Linked DNA regions of Homo sapiens: all the other regions are linked to region 3. The links come from fine-mapping of genetic effects on gene expression. A gene starts in region 3. Each other region holds a variant in brackets. All regions are shown on one strand. Distances are between the middles of the regions. Region 1 overlaps CA8 (carbonic anhydrase 8). Region 2 overlaps LOC105375864 (a long non-coding RNA gene). Region 3 holds the start of CA8 (carbonic anhydrase 8). Region 4 holds the start of LOC105375864 (a long non-coding RNA gene).

What was found. PIP is the estimated chance that this variant, and not a neighbour inherited with it, causes the effect.
Region 1: its variant is the best candidate, but not a certain one, in a credible set for the expression of CA8 in whole blood (TOPMed, PIP 0.73).
Region 2: its variant is the best candidate, but not a certain one, in a credible set for the expression of CA8 in synovium (Steinberg 2020, PIP 0.59).
Region 4: its variant is the best candidate, but not a certain one, in a credible set for the expression of CA8 in whole blood (TOPMed, PIP 0.73).

What each region holds. Positions count from the first base shown.
Region 1 is chr8:60,237,035-60,242,185 of GRCh38, reverse strand. All of the region lies in intron 3 of CA8 (carbonic anhydrase 8), which reads left to right. Among named protein-coding and RNA genes, the nearest start is that of CA8, 42 kb to the left of the region's middle. The variant A/T (reference allele first, on the strand shown) is at 2,926.
Region 2 is chr8:60,311,902-60,317,052 of GRCh38, reverse strand. All of the region lies in intron 5 of LOC105375864 (a long non-coding RNA gene), which reads left to right. Among named protein-coding and RNA genes, the nearest start is that of CA8, 33 kb to the right of the region's middle. The variant GTTT/T (reference allele first, on the strand shown) is at 2,993.
Region 3 is chr8:60,278,425-60,283,575 of GRCh38, reverse strand. CA8 (carbonic anhydrase 8) reads left to right here and starts at 2,176. Exons shown (of 9, transcript NM_004056.6): 1 at 2,176-2,528; 2 at 3,696-3,887. The coding sequence starts at 2,429. RefSeq lists a silencer at 1,993-2,201 and an enhancer at 2,194-2,700.
Region 4 is chr8:60,335,586-60,340,736 of GRCh38, reverse strand. It overlaps LOC105375864 (a long non-coding RNA gene), which reads left to right and starts at 1,559. Exons shown (of 7, transcript XR_001745925.1): 1 at 1,559-2,157; 2 at 3,372-3,536. The variant A/G (reference allele first, on the strand shown) is at 3,172.

The sequences.
Region 1 (5,151 bases), 41 kb after region 3:
ATTTCGATTGTGCACTAATCCTTTTCACTCATCCTTTTCTTCTATTGGGCTATAAATTTCTTATTTTTGTTTATTTACATCCTGGATTCTTTTATAACAAGATTTGAGTCTTTGCATTTCCAGTGCCAGAAGCAGTGAACACTAAAACCCTAGATACTGTCGGTGCTCAATAAATGTTGAGATGAGTGCTGCCATTATTTCAGAACTCTTTCATCATCGTGGCTCTCATTCAGGGATGAGCAGGGAGAGGATTGCAGCCATTAGTCACTGATTCACTGTATAGAATGAACAGATCCAATCTATAAATGACTTACATTCTATAACAAGACCCGTTGACAATCTCTTTGCTTTCTTTATTTTACAAAATAATAAATGAAGTAGGGAAGTTATAGCAATTTAATTGCAGCTATAGCCTACAATTCAGGTTTTTTTTTTTTAGAAAATAAAATGTAGGATATTTCCTGGAAATCAAGAAACCAGTGTTGAAGAATGAGTTTTAATTGCTTCTGATTTTACATTAAATATAAAACATAAAAATGATGTAGTTTTTCTTTTCTTTGATCTATGACTGCACCAAGCTTTTCCCAATCTTTTATAGTGAATTTCATAAAGGAAGCTTCATTTTTGGGAGAAGAGTCCAATGGTGTTATAAAGCCCTGTTCCTAAGAAGGCAGGAAATCAGTCAGCATTTAAAGAGGCAGCCATTCTGCTTTGAAATAAGATCTTCTTTTTATAAATTACATAGCACTAGTGCCTTTTACTAAGAACACTATAAATACCTTTTGATATTAATGTCTTCATGGGGGAAGTTGCTCTGAAGCCCTCTGTCACATTCCCCTATTTCTCTTCTACCTATCTGTATACAAGACTTGGTTAGGTTTTGGCAGACATAACAAGTAGGTGATAGCTAGAGATAGAATTTCGAATAATTTATGTTCCATTCCATGCTTTACAGTATTTTGTCACTGTTATATCTGTCTACACCTTGAACGTCCTTCTCTGAATAATAGCAGCATAATATATTGACAGTGATGACTTAAAGCGTAGCAGCATCTGAGAATAATACACACTAAATCTTGATTTATCTGCTGATGAATGGGCTGCTTCATATAATTATGAGTGGATCTGGAAAGAGATGGTGCTTTCTCTGTTAACTATTTCTCAGTTATTTAATGACCCATTTTGTGACTTAAATGTTCTACTTTCTGTTTCCTTTTCCCCCTTTTTTTCCTTCTTTTTCCAGTGCTTACTATCTTCTTTCTTTCAATTTCCAGTATCATAAGAACAGCTGAGATATAATCTTTTTTTTTCTTTTTCAAAATTTTATAGCCCCCTCTGAGTGCTCTGAGAAGGGCTGTTTTGAGTGTGGCAGAGCCTGGGTGGGTGAGATACTTGGCTTCTGGAACTCAGAATCTATTGGGACCTGCTACAGTTTTCTATAGTTGGATTTTTTGGGGGCTGAGGAAGGCAATTAAGCAAAATCAGGACACAGAAATAAAGATCTGTTCTTGATGATTTTTTCCCTCTGTGAAGCTATACTCTATAGTGTCCTGGCTCAGAGGAAAGTTCTTAATGACTATACATTGGGTAGAAAGTGGTTTACAGGTCCAGTTACATCTGAGTTCATGGGCTGCATTGAATATTTATTATTCATCAAAACTTAACAGCAGCCTGTTATTTCTCTCCAGTTTTACTTTTAACCATTAAGAAAATAGATAAGAATATTAAAAAGTCAAAGGTGAGCTTTGCTCACTCTCAACCAGTGATTTCAGCTGACTTCTAATGTCTGTTTTCTGATAATCCTGCCTACCTTATAGGCTGATTGGCCTTGCTCCACTTGTTTTATCCTGATGTCTCTGTGTTCTCCCTGTGTGCCTTTCACTGTCTTGAAACTGCCATCTCAATAATCTAAAAAACAATAGGTCCAAAGTCTCTTTCTGTCCTCATTTTTCCTTGTTTCTTTGCAGCTGTCATAGCTTTGCTGCTAGTATCTCCTTGACAGTATTGATGCCCACACTGTCTTCTAGAAAGTCTGTTCTCTTTTAATGGCACTTTGGAATTTTCTGAGTTCCCTCTTGCATATTTGATAGTCCCTCTTTCGTTATCTCACCATTTTCCAAAGCTCAGTCTTTGGTCCCCCGTCAGTTTCTCTCAAGACTTGATCCATGTATTAGTCTGTTTTCATGCTGCTGATAAAGACATAGCCAACACTGGGTAATTTATAAAGAAAAAGAGGTTTACTGGACTCACAGTTCCACGTGGCTGAGGAGGCCTCACAATCATAGTGGAAGGTGAAAGGCACGTCTTACATGGCGGCAGGCAAGAGACAGAGTGAGAGCCAAGTGAAAGAAGAAACCCCTTTTGAAATCATCAGATCTCGTGAGATTTATTCACTACCACGAGGACAGTATGGGGGGAACTGCTCCCAAGATTTGATTATCTTCTACAGGATCCCTCCCACAACAAGTGAGAATTATGGGAGCTACAATTCAAGATGAGATTTGGGTGGGGACACAGCCAAACCGTATCAATCCATGAGTGAACCAACTCTACAAGGTCACATTTCTCTAGGGCAAGCTTGTCCAACCCATGGCCTGTGGGCCACATGCAGCCCAGGATGGCTTTGAATATGGCCCAACACAAATTTGTAAATTTTCTTAAAACATTATGAGATTTTCTTGCAATTGTTTTTTTCTCATCAGCTGTTGTTAGTGTTAGTATATTTTCTGTGTGGCCCAAGACAGTTCTTCTTCTTCCAGTGTGGCCCAGGGAAGCCAAAAGATTGAACACCCCTGCTCTAGGGGTATCTGCTCCCTGTACCTTTAGCCCTTTCTCAAGGCAGCAGCAGTTCTGCACCTCTCACTAATGGGGCACTAGTTTGATTGTTCTGATGTGGGTTTACACTCCTATCTAAAACTGAATTCA[A/T]TTGTGGCTCACACCTGTAATTCCAGCTCCCCTGGAGGCTGAGGTGAGAGGATCACCTGAGCCCAGGAGTTCAAGGCTGCGGTGAGCTGTGATTTTGTCACTGCACTGCAGCCTGGATGACAGCAAGACTCCATCTGTTGCAAAAACCAAACCCTCAAAACACCCCTGAATTTATCTCCCTTTTGATAAAATGATTTTGGTAGAAATCCCAGTTATCTCCCCTCTTTCTCTTCCTTTTTCTTCCTGTCTGTTGGTTGAAGTTCTCTGTCTCTTTCTCCCTTCCCACTGTCTCCCCTCCTCCCTGCACCCTTTATTTCTGGCATCTCCAGCCTCCATCTTTCTGTCAAATGCCCATCAGTGCCTAGGAGGACAGGTAGGATTTGTCTGGGTGTCAGGGCAGATTGGGGAAAGGCATTCCAGGTGAGTGGGCATAAGCAGAATGGGGAGGCTGTTGTGAGGAGTCAGGGTCATGCTTGGTTTGAGCATGTGGGGAGAGTTAGGGTGGGGAAGGATGTGGTTTGAGAAATGTAAGTCTGATATGGATAGGAAATAAAGGAAATCAGAGATTTTCAACAGAGGAAATGTGGTGAAAGTTGTGTTAAAAAGAGATTAGTCGGGCTTCATAATGTAAATGCCAGGGCCCAGGAGAGGTCTAGATGAGCTCTGGAGATAAAGGCACGGGGGTCCCAGGTCTCAAGCCTGGCAAGCGGGGCAGGAGGGGGAGTTCTATGAAGAGTGTGTGAGTGGGAAGCTCCTTTGAAGAGGGTTGATGTCAGTTGTAGAAATGTTCATCTTGAGGTGTCAAGAAGACATCTGAAAGGAAAGGTCCCTGCATTTGCAGTTAGGAGATGTCACAGAATTTGTATGAGTGCCCAGGGCTGGGGAAAAGGAAATTTGTGAGTCATAATTGCCTTTTCAGTGTTTACTACTTTTTCCGTTCCTCATGATTCATTCTTTGGTACTTTGCTGCCGTCGTATTATTTATGTTAGTAATAAACCTCATTTGTCGTGAAGATAGCTTTCTGTTAAGCTGCCATGAAGTCTTCAAACTTATTTTTCTCAGTGACAAATGATGATAAGGCTGTGGCATGTCGCAATTTCTTAACTTTGGACAAATTTATCTATTCTGTGAGTTAAGTGCATTAAGATGAACGTTTTGAACGTTTCACAGGTGCTAATGGTAAGGCAGCATAATCAGTTGCGGGAATATGAAGTTGTGAGTCCTGTAGCAAAAGCTCGGTCCAAGATTTTCCCTGAAGCTGTAAAAGGATGCATCATGGTTGTTTTCCTGTGGTCCGATTTTTTAACAGAAGACATAATGGTCATCATGCTGCCAGAGTAATAATGGATCTTGGCTGTTTTATGTCTTTGTAACACTTGCCTCCTGTTGGTGGGCTGGGGGGAAGAGTTATAAGGAGTGAGGAAGGACTCAGCTTTAATTGTTACGGAAAACCACTTTCTTCTACCCTGAGGTGCCCAAGTGTAGGAGGAGGCCAAACCTTTTGCCTTTGGAGGGAGAATGGCTGAAGGGAGCCTGGAGGCAGATTCTTTCAGCAGGAGGGATTCTGCTGTTGTTGTTGGTAGCCATAGTAGGTCTTGGGTTCAGGCTGCAAGAGGCAGCCCCTCAGCCACCTGCTGTGCAGTGTGTTTACCAGGTAGAGCAGGTCCAGGCTCTTGAAGGCCTGTGGGGCAGGGTCCTGCCTGGAGCCATCTTTAGTCCAGTGGACCCTGGAGGAGTAAGTGACCCTATGCAGTGACCCGTCTACTTCTAAACAGATGCAGTGCTAATGCGGCCGACCCTTGCTCTCCTTAGAAATGGTAAGTGGCATTTACATACTTGGTCTAAACTATAATCCAGTTGGCTGCTTTTCTTTGTCAGAATCCATCATCCTGCTTCCCTGCCTTTGCTGGCTATATATAATGCTAATAACAGTAAAACGTGATAAGAATATAGGAAAAAGAGTACTATGGGAAGACAGAGAAAAGCGTGAATAATCCAAGCTTTTAAGATACAGTCTCCTGTGTTACAGAGAGACATGCTGAAAGAAGTTAGTGACTAGTGAAGTTCACAGAGCTAAAGAGTTGTAGGACTGAAACAAGAATCTAAGACGAGATTCCTAGCAGAGGTCTTTTATGAGAGCACATTGCCTCTCAGAATAATGGAGCTGGAGAAGTGCACAGGGTTGCCGCCTCTGTATCCTGCCCTCTCCATAGACCAGACACACC
Region 2 (5,151 bases), 33 kb before region 3:
GCAAATGGAAAAATTACCAAGAGGGAATCTCTGGGGTAAGGTGAATTCAGGCTAAACTGACTTAGCAGGGGTCTTGCGAAAACTGGATTTTACATGGAAGTGCACAGATGGGCCTAGAAGAATATTCAGAAGGCTGAGTAGAGTTTGGCCAAGCAAAGATTCTTTGTCTGTATCTATGAGGCCTCTAAAAAGGAAAGCAGAGTAAGCTCGGAATAATTTTTAAATGATTCCAAAAAAATAGGTGCATGGAGACTAGATTTTTATAAAGGTCAACAGCTTTGAAAACTTCATTCTGTTAAAATCAAGATAATCAGTTTCCCAAGTGATCTCTAAGAATAATATAGGAAGTCATGGGGCTGAATAATAATAATAGTAGTAATAATTAGTGGTCACCCCCAAAAAGTAGGTGCATGGAGCTTCTACATATCTTTTGTAAAGAGGTGGGAGTCACAGAAATGAATGACACGAAAATTGTGAGATAGGCAGGAAGTCGCACTCCTAGGTACTGAGGACGTTCTCTGCACTGACACACCTTAGCAGACCTTCAGACAGACTTAATGGGGAAGCCAAAGAAGCTTATGCTCAGGGCCCATCACTTTCACAGGGTACCTTGCAAGGCCCTTGGAGAGGCTCTAGCAATTTTATATTCTTAATTTTATATTATTTTGAGGAGAGTAATTTTAGTGAAGTATGTGTAACATTGTATAAAGAAAAATGGACAATTTTGCATTATTCTGTTATTGAGCAAATGGTCTCACTGCTTGATGTAATTAGAAGCCATACTACGGCACCAGCTTTTGAGATAAAAAACAATTCATTGAGAGGCTGACACAGAAGGCATGGCTGAAATCTGTCTCCCAAATTTGAGTCTGCGGCAAGTTTCAAGGGATTGGAAGGCAGAAAGGATTTTGGTGTGGTAAGGTCTGATTGGAGAGCTTCAAATGTGACTATTTTTGGTAAGGTACGTTGAGGCTGATTTTAGCCCTGGATCTTCCTGGCCGTCAGACCCCCTCGCTTTTGAAATGGTTCTGATGTTCAGGTTCTGGTTGTGTCCTGGTCTTCCTGGTTCCGTGGGGAGGAATTGTTGGTTTTGGATGTCAGAGGTCAAATCTTTCCTATTGTACATGCCTGGGCCATATGACTTGCAGTCTTGGCTCTGTTATATCTACAAGGTACTTAGACATTCTATTATCAATAGAGTAGGCCCAGTTTGAGATGCTCCTGTGGTTACTACCATTCTTCCTGGAGAGGACCGCTTACAGCCTCCCAGCCCCAGTTGTGTAAGTTTCCCACAAACCTGCATCAGCCTCAGCTGGATTGTGCTTCTGCAGAGAAACCCTTGTACTCCCTTCTCTCTCCCCTATTCCGGCCGTGAAAGCAGGTTCTGCTTACCAAAGTCCTCTGAGTTCTGAGCGGTTTTGGATTCTGGTTTGTTCTTTGATAAAGACATAAATGACAGGACAATTGTTTCCTTGGGCTGGAGTAATGAGCTCACATTCTCAACATTAAACTTAAAAGAAATAAATATTTAAAAATCTAGCATTCGTGTTACAAAATAAAGGCATAAGATATGAGAAACTTGGCTACAGTATCATCTGTGAAGAAAATAATTGTTTTGTTTCACTCTGTACTCAAAGTGTCAATAGTGCTAATGAGGTTATTAAAAAGCTCTCGAGTTCCCACCACACGTAGAGTCACCAGGCAAGCAGGAAGGGTCCACTGCGTTCTGGGAACCTGTTTCCTGAGGGTTAAAAGCATAATTTTCAGAAATGTAAAATCACAAAAATAAAATAAATGTGTCAAATATTTTATTTAACTCATTAATTAAAAACCATTTAAAATGAGATTTTGATTTGCAGAGATTTATATTCTCTGCCAGACAAAATTCATTTGCATTGTCATGCACGGGTATCATTTGCATAGCTATGGGCAGGAAACATTTGCATCGTTATCCATTTTCTATAACTTAAACCCTATTCCAACAGAGTTGTAAAATAGCCTAGTCAATCACAGGCAATTGAAAGTGCACGTCCTGTGGAATTAGAGAATCCCAGAGGGTCTGCTAACAATGTCCTGCCCTCCACTGAAAGGACACCAGGAATCACTTTGGTCTGTTTCTAAGACTTGGACCATTTTTTTACGTGAGATATATTATGAAGAGAAGAATGTTTATCCAGAGTGTAACCAGGAGAGCAGAAGCTCTTGAAATTATGTATTAATATTATGTGGACACACGATAGGACCAGGAATATTTTCAGCCGGGCAAAGATGAGATGCACTGTGGACAGTGATCCAAGTTATAAAATACTAAAGAACTGTCATGAAGCAAAGCGCTGTCCTTATTTTGTGTAGTTCCAGAGGTCAGAACCAGAGTAAACGGGGTTGGGGGTAGGGGTAGGAGGGGGTAAGAAGCTACAGCAAAGCAGATCTTAATATATGAAAAACTTATTAAGAAATGGGAGTTTTGGGCCAGGTGTGGTGGCTCATGCCTGTAGTCCTAGCACTTTGGGAGGCTCAGATGGGTGGATCACTTGAGGTCAGGAGTTCAAGACCAGCTTGGCCAACACAGTGAAACCCTGTCTCTACTGAAAAAAAAAAAAGAATTAGCCGGGCGTGGTGGCATGTACCTGTAATCCCAGCTACTTGGGAGGCTGAGGCAGGAGGATCACTTGAACCTGGGAGGTGGAGGTTACAATGAGCCTAGATCATGCTAAAACACTTCAGCCTGGGTGACAGAGGGAGACTCTGTCTCAAAAAAAAAAAAAAAAAGAAAAAGAAAAGAAAAAGAAATAGAAGTTTTGATTTGTGGGTTCTCTGTCATTGAAAATGTTCAAGCAGAAGTTATATAATCTTTTATAGGAATGTGAAAGGAAAATATCTTGGGCCCATGAGGGAAGGCAGGTAACTCCTTTATGGAGTTTAAGCTCACTTCCAACAGAGAAGATGAGTGTGTGTGTGTGTGTGTGTGTGTGTGTGTGTTGTTGTTGTTGTT[GTTT/T]TTCCTGCTTCTAGGATGGTAGAGAGCAGTCTTCTGCCTGAAACCCATTCCTAGATAAGTAACTGAATTAGGGTTTAGCTTGGCTAAAGTTAAGATTAACAACCAACTGGTCTACATGTCAGAGGCATTTGAACCAGAGCAACTCCATCTTGAGTAGAGGCTGGGTAAAATGAGGCTGAGACCAATTGGGCTGGATTTCCAGATGGTTGGGCATTCTAAGTCACAAGATGAGATAGGAGGTCAGCACAAGACAGATCATAAAGGCCTTGCTGATAAAATAGTTTGCAGTAAAGAAGCTTGTCAAATCCCACCAAAACCAAGATGGTAACAAAAGTGACCTCTGATCGTCCTCACTGCTACACTCACATCAGTGCCATGACAGTTTGTAAATGCCATGGCAATGTAAGGAAGTTACCCTATATGATCTAAAAAGGAGAGGCATGAATAATCCACCCCTTGTTTAGCACATAATGAAGAAATAACCATAAAAATGGGCAACCAGCAGCCCTCAGGGCTGCTCTGTCTGTGGAGTAGGCATTCTTCTACTCCTTTCTTTTTTTTTTTTCCTTTTTTTTTTTGAGATGGAGTCTCACTCTGTCACCTGGGCTAGAATGCAGCGGTGTGATCTCAGGTCCATGCAATTTCTGCCTCCCTGGTTCAAGCGATTCTCCTGCCTCAACCTCCCGAGCAGCTGAGACTACAGGCACGTGCCACTACACCTGGCTAATTTTTGTATTTTTAGTAGAGACGGGGTTTCACCATATTGGCCAGGCTGGTCTCAAACTCTTGACCTCAGGTGATCTGCCCACCTTGGCCTCCAGAGTGCTGGGATTACAGGTGTCAGCCACTGCGCCCAGCCTACTCCTTTATTTTCTTAATAAACTTGCTTTTATGTTACTCTATGGACTAACCCTGAATTCTTTCCTGCACGAGATCCAAGAACCCTGTCTTGGAGCCTGGATCTGGCCCCCTTTCCTGTAACATGAATTTCTCCTTACCATTAGAGGGTTCAGTGATCATGTTGTTGGGGCTTTGTTGTTTGTTCCCATTTAAAGTTGTTGTTTAAGGATCCTAATTCTAGTTTGGAGATGCATTTGAAAGGTCTTCTCTATTGCTTTTTGTCCCAAATTTTTAATCTTAATTGAGTTTGTCTGTGTGCATTTGCATGAGGAACTAAACTGTTGTTTTGATATGTTAATGAGAGACTGAGTTTTCTTAGCCCTGAAGAGAAGGGGCATTTTGCTCCTTCCAGCTGAAAGGCTTCCCTGGGTGACCGGGGGCCCCATGGGAGTGTCTGGGAGGTTGACCACCCCATGACGTGCAGCAGCCCTGCAAGGGAATCCCCAACAAAAATTAATTTTATAAATGGCTCATCTAGGTAACACATGTAAGGGCTAATCATCTGGTGTTTTGAGCCCTCTCTGAGGTCACAGACCTCTGGAGGGAGAAACTGAGACATATAAAAGGGTTGAAACTACTCAGTGGTGACACACTGTGGAGTCCTGCCCACAAGCAGCACATGTTGATCCACCACACAAAAACCATGGACCATAGCTCAGTTCCTCCCTTAAAAAAAAAAAAAAAGAAAGAAAAAAAATGGGAAACAATCTAAGAATGATGAGAAAACAAGGAGAATGACCCCCTTTTGAGCAGTCTGTAGGTTTTATGGCACCTCTACTTGCCAAAATAATATGGTCTTTGTGCACATTTACATTAAGGAAAAAAGAGCCCTTGGCTGGGCGTGGTGGCTCACCCCTGTAATCCTAGCACTTTGGGAGGCTGAGGTGGGTGGATCTCCTGAGGTCAGGAGTTCAAGACCAGCCTGGCCAACATGGCGAAATCCCATCTCTACTAAAAATACAAAAATTATCCGGGCATGGTGGTGCATGCCTGTAATCCCAGCTACTCAGGAGGTGAGGAAGGAGAATCACTTGAACCCAGAGATGGAGGTTGCAGTGAGCCGAGATCACGCTGTTGCACTCCAGCCTGCGTGACAGGAGTGAGACTCCATCTCAAAAAACAAAACAAAACAAAACAAAAGCCCTAAGTGTCAGGCCTCTGAGCCCAAGCTAAGCCATCATATCCCTTGTGACCTGCACGAATGCATCCAGATGGCCTGAAGAAAGTGAAGAATCACAAAAGAAGTAAAAATGGCT
Region 3 (5,151 bases):
GCTGTTAATTGAATATTTGGGTGCTTAGAGGATTGGCTCATATGTGGCTGGACAGGGAACCCTAGGCTTGCATACAGGAGTTACATTCTACAAATAATCATGAACAATTCAGAAGGAGCAAATATAGGCCAATGCTAGTAGTCAACTGCATATTTGAATAGTAATACATTGCTGGCTATATGCAAAATTGTCTTTTTACTGTAAAAGTAAATACTAATAATTCAATCTTTCAGCCTATCTTTTGTAAATATGGCACAGTATTTATTCATGGAAAATTCAGTTTTTTACCATGGTGATTGTACCATCCTCTGGTTTGATAAACATCTCTATGATTCACCTGATATTTTAAACACAGTTGGTGGTCACACAATGGCTACAATGTCATACTTAGGCACATTTGGGGGACAGAGGAGAAAGGCCATTGCTGATGAGCTCAGAGTGGCAGTGCTTTTATTATCCAATTCCTTCATAGCCTTTGTATGGGCTTCCTTAGCTGTGGCATTTAATTAACGTGTGAACATACTTCTAAAAAGAAACTTAAAACAAATAGAAGATTACAAAAAAGTTTTCAAGAAAGGAAAAATAAATGTTCCTTTTAGAAGACCTTCAGTGAAAAGTAGTTAATATTTTCAGTAGTGCTTATTATTTTTAATAGCTCTGGCTTTGGGGTAGGCTTCTGCTTCTGCCAGTCCCAGGCTTGCAAAGATGCAAACGACCGTCCACTAAAGAACACCCAGAATGCAGTGAGTGAAAAATGAATTTAGTTTCTCAAACTGTTTCAGTCCTCTGCACAGTTAAGGAAAAGAGAAATTATATGAATGCTTAAAATCCACCGGTTATCCTCCAAGCTAATGTTGGCCAGTAGTTTTCCATATATTTGGTTAAACCTTCCAGAAAGTGGCAGAATTGAGCGAGTTGAGGGTTCCCCCCACTTCTTTCCATCTCAGTGTACTTTCTGGAGCAGTTTGTAATTTTTTTTTTTTAAAAGCTATGAAGTGTCTTTTTAAAAAGTGGAGGTGCTTAGCAGGCAGTAAAGGATATGAGCACTGAAACTAAACATTCCCAAACGGATCATTTCCATCCTTATTTGAGGAATTATGCATTCATAAGGCTGGTGTGATTTAGGAACAGGTTATTCAAAGTGCAAATAGATATCTTCATGAATGACCAGAGCATATAAAAAACAAATTGTACTTAAGGTCCTAACTCGAGTTTATTGTGCACATATATCTTCTAAAAATGTGGAGTTAACCTACTTAGGGGTTACTGACCAGGGCTTTTAAAAGGCACAGGAACAGAGGGCTGAAGTCGTTAACACTAGACTGAGAAGCACGTTTAAGGGTAACAATGCCACCTCTTTGGATCAGAAGAGTTCCTGTTTGTTATGCAATGTGTGCACTTCATTATTTACACGATTTCACTAGGTGAATGGGAGCTGTGTACACAGCCAGGTGAGCCTGCAGCAGCGCCCCAGACTCTGACAGCGAACACCCTCTGTCTACTGCCTTCTGCTAGCCCTGCTTTGAAACAATACCCTTTTCTGGAAAAAAAAAAAAAAAAAACACAACCCTAAATCATAGCTACTTCTCTAGATAACAACCATTTTCTTTTCTTAAACGTTTTTAGGAATTAATAGAACTTTCTTGGAAAAATTTCCAAACTCGTTTCCACTGCGCTGAACGGACGATTTAAAAAGTAAATACTCAGAAGATACTAAGAAGATTCCGCTGGAGAGTCTCTTTTTATTGTGTTACGGGGTCTCCTAGCCCTCTCCTTTCTCCTACCCACGGCAGCCCATCTCTCTCCTCCAGGACCCCTTCTTTTTGGTATTTCCTGGAGTACGGATGAAAATGAATAGGTGAGCAGCCTCTGGGCTAGGCCAGGCACACAGGGGTCCCGAGTGACCTTGGGAGACTTGCGGGCTTCTGGAAGGAAGGCTCGGGCGGCCAAGCAGGAGTCGCCGCAGCGAGGAAGCGCCAGGAGGCGGCGGGGGCGACCCCGGGGGAAGGGCGGGCGGGGATGCGCCGAGGTTTCCGTGACTTGGGACTAGTCGCCCCGAGGCGCATTCTAACTGTCGGCTCCCCTGGCCCCAACGGCCAGAGAGAGAAGGGGGCGGATCCTCGCGTACCAGACACGCCCCGGTCGGGTATAAAATTCGCCAGGCGCTCGCTCCCCAGGCCACAGCCGCTCCCTCGCTCTGCTGGGGCCTCCGGACGCGCTTCCCACGCGGGTCTCTGGAACACTCGGTCCGAACGCACGCCTGCTTGCACTCACACTGCGGTTCACACCCGGAGGCGCTCTCGCACTCACACTGCCGCTCACGCGTGCTCACACTCCCCCACGCGCGCTCCGCTCCGGCTCCAGCCCCGCGCCCAGCGAAGGCGCAGGCACTGCTGCCGAGAGCGCCGAGGGGCCCCGCGGCCTTCCCATGGCGGACCTGAGCTTCATCGAAGATACCGTCGCCTTCCCCGAGAAGGAAGAGGATGAGGAGGAAGAAGAGGAGGGTGTGGAGTGGGGCTACGAGGAAGGTAAGTGGCCGCGAGTCGGGGTGTCCGGGGTCCCGCGGCGGCGTCAGTGTCTCGCCGAGCGCGGGACTCGAGTCCTGCTGCCGCTGCGCGCTCCGAGCACCCCCACGCCCCCTCTTTCCCACGGGGGTCTCTGCCACTTTCCCACTCCCCTGGTGCGTTTCGGGCGGGAGGCGCTCCAGGGAGGCGTGCTCGCCGCCTGCGCTCTTCCGCCGCCTGCGCTCTCACCCGGGAGCCTTCCGCAGGGCTGGCGTTCGCACCTGCTGCGGTCCGGAGGGCGGGCTAGCCTCCAAGCCGTGGCTGTACCTTTTATGTCTTCTGAGTAGTCAAGAAGAGCAGCGGTACATTTTACTAAACACCTGAGGAAGACAGTGTTAGCGTGAAGAATTCGTTTTTGGCTTGGAGACTTTGGGGAGAAAGTGTTTCTGCCTCTGGTCTTTTCGTGAAGCCTGCTAGCAATGCTCAAGTCTTTCTAAAACATGTCCTAAATTTCAGACTGAATCATTGGGTTTGGCGAGAAGCGGTTGACTTTCTGAAAAACTCGAGTTTCCTAGATTTATTCCTAAAGACCTAGGGCTCCTATTAGAGCCAACCAGTAGTGCTGATGTTTACTACATATGTTGAAACCAATATAGAATATATAATTTTAATTATAAAAAATTTGGAAAGACTATGGGAATATGTATGTACACAGATATATACATATGCACACTTTAAAATACTACACTTGCATTTCTGATAAGGGGCGTCTATTTACTAGCATGAGAGTTAGGGTTCTGACTGTCACTAAGTATGTTGAAAGTTACAGCTGTTTCCCAGGTACTGAACGTAATTGAACTAATAAGCAGAAGAAATTGTTCTGGTATTCTTTTTTCCTAATCACTTAAAAATGACCCAAATTTCCTAGAATCATAAATTATTATGTCTTTGTTGACAAATACAAATAGAATATTTTGCTAGTCCGGGATTTTGTGTATGGTATTTGATAATAACAGATCATTCAAATAATGAATGCAAAAACAAATAGAATTACCATATTTCATCTGTATAGTGATGGTATCATTACTCTCTTCATGATATCAAGGGTTCTAAGTGTTTAGTTTTTACATGTTAAATTTTACTGTAATTTATTTTTTAACCTGTTTTTAATTTATTTCATTTTGTTCTTAGGTGTTGAGTGGGGTCTGGTGTTTCCTGATGCTAATGGGGAATACCAGTCTCCTATTAACCTAAACTCAAGAGAGGCTAGGTATGACCCCTCGCTGTTGGATGTCCGCCTCTCCCCAAATTATGTGGTGTGCCGAGACTGTGAAGTCACCAATGATGGACATACCATTCAGGTTATCCTGAAGTCAAAATCAGGTATTTTAGAAAATATGTTTGTGTGGTCTTTTAAACTAGAAGTCAGCGTAGAGTTATTGAACTGTGATTTAACTTGCACAATTTAAAAAGTACAACTGACGTATCTCTATTTTCAGGATACCTTTGTATTATAATATAAAGCATTTTTGGGAATTACCTTCTGAAACAATTTTGAAAGGACAAAAGAGTGAAATTATGAAGATTATCAGTCGGTTGTTCTGCTTCTTATGATGTTACTGGAAAAACCTTAGTTTGATCACCTTATACCTTGTGAAATATGAGGACAGGTACATGCAGGTGCAGTAATCTGCGTTTTGTCCAAAATTGTTGATTAGCTTAAATCACTTAGATAATCATAATTCTCTGTTTTGCTACTTTGTGAAACCAAAGATTAGAATTTATTGACATAACGTGGCATTCAAGGTAGACTTCTCAGGTTAATTTTCTCTACTGTATTAGTTTGCCAAAAATAATTTTAACTAATAACAATAAGAAACAGCCTCTAAACTCAGCCAGAGATTTAAATGGTAAACAAACCTCTTCCTTTTATTTATTTATTTATTTATTTATTTAAGTTCCATCCCATGAAACTTCTCCTACCACTTGCAAACCTATTTGAGATGGATCTGAAATGTTCTGTGCAAAAGTTGTTAGGTAATTACCAAGGAAATCAGTTTTTGGCTTTATCGTAGGAAAGAGGAAATCAGATTTTTAAAAAATGTAGCATTAATAGCATGCATTTCATAGTGAATAATAACTGTCTTTTTCTTTTGGGAAAAATTAAAGTATGTTGAAATATTAGGACGTACTTGATAAATAGAGACTGTGCTCGAAAATTAATTCCAAGTTGATAAAGTTGATACCTCAAACTATAAAATCTTTAGGTTTGTTATTAATCAAGGCAGCTGTTGATTTCCAGCTATGGATTTATTTTATTCATTGTAAATGTTTCTAAGCTTTAATTTAGAATCCATGAGATAGTCATAGATTCATGTAGTCTCCTTCGCTGTTCTGAGTTTAGTCAGCATGTGAGCATTGCCCAAAAGAGTTACTGGGCTTTATATGTACTTAGTCAGAGTCAGTTTAAGATGGAAATTTCGACTTGAATTTTTTTGGGGGTGTGGGTTTAGCTTTGATGGGACATTACTTACTGTTTTTTAAAGGATATTGTAAAATTATTGAATGCTGACTGTTCTGGCATATAAAAAGCAATTTAAAGAAGTACATGTGTGTTGATGTGTTGAGATGCTTTGAACTTCCGGAA
Region 4 (5,151 bases), 57 kb before region 3:
ATGGGGTTCCCTTTGTAGGTGACCTGCCCTTTCTCTTTAGCTGCCTTTAACATTCTTTCATTTTGACCTTGGAAAATCTGACAATTATGTGTTTGGGGATGATCTTCTTGTGTAGAATCTTGCAAGCATTCTCTGCATTTCCTGAATTTGACTGTTGGCCTCTCTATCAAGGTTGGGGAAGTTTTCATGGACAATATCCTGAAATATGTTTTCCAAGTTGTTTGCTTCCTCCCCCTCCCTTTCAGGCATGCCAGTGATTCTGATATTTGTCCTCTTTACATAATCCCATACTTCTTCGGTGTCTGACTGTCTTATTTCAGAGAGCCAGTCTTGAAGTTCTGAGATTCTTTCCTCAGCTTGGTTTGTTCTGCTGTTAATACTTGTGATTGCATTGTGAAATTCTTACATTGTGTTATTCAGCTCTGTCAGATCTGTTAAGTTCTTTTTTATGCTGGCTGTTTTGTCCTTCATTGGCTCCCCATTGCCCACAGAATAAAGTGCTGCCTCTCCTTTGCTTGGCAGTGAGATTCCTCATGGGCCAGTCTACAATCCTCCTTTATAACAAATGTCTCACAATTTTCTTTCATGAAGCATGGGCCAGACCAAAACAAACTCTTGTAGCTCTCTGTCGTTGCATCCAGAAATCTTGACTTTGTTCCTTTCCTGCTACATCCTTTCTGTTTACATTTTCCTTCACTGCGACTCTGGGTGCTCCACTGCTAATGCTTGTTTCAGGCCTAACTCAAATGCCACCTCCTCCCTGACATCTTTCCTAATCCAGGCCCCCATAGTCACCTTTCCTTGTGAGGTCACAGTGCATGCTCTGAGCCATGCTCATAACCTTGCTTTGTCGTGATTTAGGATTTTAGTATGAGATTCTTCAACAGGGTAAATGGAGATTTTTGTCTACATTGTGGAAGGAATATGGGAACTGAGACATTCAAAAGGAATGAAATTTGAGTTAGACAGATGTCAAATACACCTCAAGCGTGTTCTGGGAAAGAAAAACTGAAGGCCTTTACTTAGTAACCACCTTTCAGCGTTTTTTTCCTTTAGGATATCATTTTCTATATCGGGACTGGAGAACAATACCCCTTACTTTTTAAAAAGACATTTCTTTTACCCATAGAAGAGGGAAATTTTAGATAAAATAGAAGATTATGTTTTGACTCTAAAAACATCAGTAACAAAACTGCAGCATTTCTGATGAAAGAGCTCATGAGTAAGTATACAATGTGGCAAAAAAAAATCATCTTCATTCCAAGAGAGAACCATTATATGACTACAATATGGAGATCTGAAGTGCTTCAAGGCAAGGTGACCCTGTGCATTCTGAAGAACTGAAACTCCAACTGTTGCCTGGTGGACAATATGTTCCATGGAAAAGAACGAGATGTGGAAAGGATTTAGATAGGGAGCTCCACATTTGAGAGTTTGTCTTAGTCTATTTTGTGTTGCTATAACAGAATATTTGAGACTAGGAATTTCTAATAAACATAAATTTATTGGCTCACAGTTCTGGAGGCTGGGAAGTCCAAGATTGAGAGGCTAGCATCTGGGGAGGGCCTTCTTGCTGTGTCATGCCATGGTGATAATAAAATAATACTTTATAAAAATGAATTTGGTAGCCACAGGTATGATGGTTTGGGGAAGATGATGGAAGGGTGATTACAAAGTTATTGCCTTGGCTCTGGCAATAAGAATTGAGAACTTCAACTAGGACAAGGGCAATGGGAATGGAGAGATGGGGATGGACAGAATGCATGCTGTAATGTAGCCTCAGGATAAAGAAGTTGAATGAGTTTGGCATGCAGCAATGAAGAGGAAGAAGTAAAAGGTGAACCCAACGGTACAAGCCTGGGCAACTACAAGAATGGTGATCCCATCACAGAAACCAGAAATGCGGGAGGAGTGGGTTTTGGAGTTGAGACAATGAAAAGAAATGTTATAGATACTATAGATAGACTATTACTAATATTTTAGATAAGTTAAACAAACAAAAAAAGTTCAGTGAAGTTTTGAACACAAAATCCTGAAGACAAGAGGTTTCAAATGTTGTAGTGAGTTGTGAAGGATAAGTTAGAAGGAAATGCCTACCTAGCCACACTGGAAAGGAAGTTTGGTTTCCAAATCATCTCAATCCATCGGCTCAAGCAGGTAAATATTTTTGTGGAGAAATCTCTCAGGAAATTGTTTTTATAGCTGCTTATATAAACATCAAATATTTACTTTCTGGCAAGGAAATTTTATGCTAAATAAAGGGGATCCCTTGTGTTTACTATTACAACAAAGTAAAAATAAATGCCAAACAAGGTGGTTGTTAAAGTAAAAAAAAAAAAAATACACTGAAACATCCTTTACTGAATCCTGTTAATATTGAGGAAGTAGCACTATTTACTTCTGAGTAAGGGTTAATTGTCTCTGTTAGGGACTGGAGGATTGGGGAGCAGTTTTTATTGCAAAACAATTAATTTGCTCCTCATTCCCACCTACTTCCAGATCTCCCGAGGGTCTTAATTTTAATTCAACTAACTTGCTATGAAAAACACATAGGTAGCTTCATTTTAAGTGTTTTTTTAAAGTCATTTTTAAAAAGTTGTGGCAAAGAAACTGTACCTGTTTATCAGGTAATTTTAACATTAGGCTGTTTTTGTAGTCTTCCTTCTAGAGTACCCATTTACAGTATATGGTAATATTCATAGTTATATACTTAACACCTTAATAGTGGCTTCAAATATTTGGCAAAAACAGTTACTTGTTCAGTACATATTTGGTATATATGTACCACATGCTGTTAAATGTTTGACATGGATTATTTCATTAATCTCCACAGCTTGTATTATTATTATTACAGTCAATCTTCACTATTCATCACTTCGGTATTTGCAAATTTACGTATTTGCAAAAATTGATTTGCAACCCCAACTTCAATACTGGTGATTTTGCTGTTTGAGATGGCCCCGAAGGGTAGTGCTGCAGTGCCTTCTGGTGTTTTAAACACAAGAGGCTGTGAGGTACCTTATGGAGAAAACGGGTGTGTTAGATAAGCTTCCTTCAGGCAGGAGTTGTAGTGCTGGTGGCTGTTCAATGTTAGCTAATCAGCAATATTTTATTGAGGAAATAGCACTATTTACTTCTGAGTAAGGGTTTAATGTCTCTGTTAGGGATTCA[A/G]TATGCTGTGTTTAAACAGAAACACACATTACAAAAATGTATTGATCAGTTGATGGAAATGTGACCAGAGGCTGGCAGGGATCTAACCCCATATTTCCCATAAAAGCACTGGCTCAGTATTCACAAATTCAGTGTTTGCAGTCACTTTAGAGTGTAACTACCATGAATAATGAGAATCAACCATCATCTCCACTTCGTAGATGAGGAAGCTGAGACCTGGGTCACATGCCTGAAGGCTTTCTGAATCTAAGTGGACCCCATTTCAGCTCAACTTAAGGACCTCAATCCTCTGCTGCTTACAATTGTCCCTTTGCTCCTTGCCGTGCTCTCCTGTTGTTGATATTTTCATTTCAGCCATTCAAATTGTGAGTAACATTTCTTCCACTTTGAGTTTTTTTTTTTTTTTTTTTTTTTTTTTGAGATGGAGTCTTGCTCTGTCGCCCAGGCTGGAGTGCAGCAGCGCGATCTTGGCTCACCGCAAGCTCCGCCGCCCGGGTTTACGCCATTCTCCTGCCTCAGCCTCCTGAGTAGCTGGGACTACAGGTGCCCGCCACCGCGCCCAGCTAATTTTTTGTATTTTTAGTAGAGACGGGGTTTCACCGTGTTAGCCAGGATGGTCTTGATCTCCTGACCTCGTGATCCGCCCGCCTTGGCCTCCCAAAGTGCTGGGATTACAGGCGTGAGCCACCGCGCCCGGCCTCTTCCACTTTGAGTTTGAAAGTTCTCATTTCCTGGCCACCACCACTGGTGCATAGGAATTGGAGATGGCTTGACAAAACAGCCTAGTCTTGGGCATTGGGACTTCTCAGCTGTGTGTTGTCTACTCATCCTGGTCGACAGGGTGTGTGTGCCTAGAGCAGCTGGAAGTGTGGGCAGTACGGTGGTGGGGGCAGAGGAAAAGTCAGTCCTCATATGGGGTCAAAGGAATTGTCAACCTTTGTTCTTATCCCCAGTAATTCTGAGCACAGCACCTTCAAACCTAGTGTTATTGTCTACATTTTATCTTTGGCCAACATTTTTAAGATTTATGATGGGCACATTGTATTAGTCCATTCTCACGCTGCTAATGAAGACATACCAGAGACTGGATAATTTATAAAGGAAAGAGGTTTAATTGACTCACAGTTCCGCAGGGCTGAGAAGGCCTCAGGAAACTTACAATCATGCTGGAAGGGGAATCAAACATGTCTTTCCTCACATGGTGGCAGCAAGGAGAAGTGCAGAGTGATGGGTGGGGAAAGGCCCCTTATAAAACCATCAGATCCCATGAGAACTAACTCGCTACCATGAGAACAGGATGGAGGAAACCACCCCCATCATTCAATTATGTGCATTGGGTCCCTCGTGCAACATGTGGGGATTATGGGAACTATAATTCAAGATGAGATTTGGGTGGGGACATAGCCAAACAATATAATTCTCCCCCTGGTCCCTCCCAAATCTCACGTCCTCACAATTCAAAATACCATCATGCCCTTCCAACCATCCCCCAAGGTCAACTCATTCCAGTGCTAAGCCAAAAGTCCAAGTCCAAAGTCTCATCTAACACAAGGCAAATTCCTTCTACTTATAAGGCTGTAAAATCAAAAGCAAGTTAGTTAGTTTCCAGATACAATGGAGGTATAGGTATTGGGTAAATATACCCATTCTAAATAAGAGAAATTGGCCAAAACAGTGGGGCTACAGGCTCCTTGCAAGTCCGAAATCCAATAGGGTAGTTATTAAACCTTAAAGTTCCAAAATGATCTCCTTTGACTCCATGTCTCATATCTAGGGCGTGCTGATGCAAAAGGTAGGCTCCCATGGCCTTGGGCAGCTCCGCCTTGGCTTTGCTAGGTACAACCCCACGGACTAATTTACTATATTAGTCCATTCTCACACTGCTAATAAGGACATACCCAAGATTAGGTAATTTATAAAGGAAAGAAGTTTAATTTACTCACATTTCCACAGGGTTGGGGAGGCCTCAGAAAACTTACA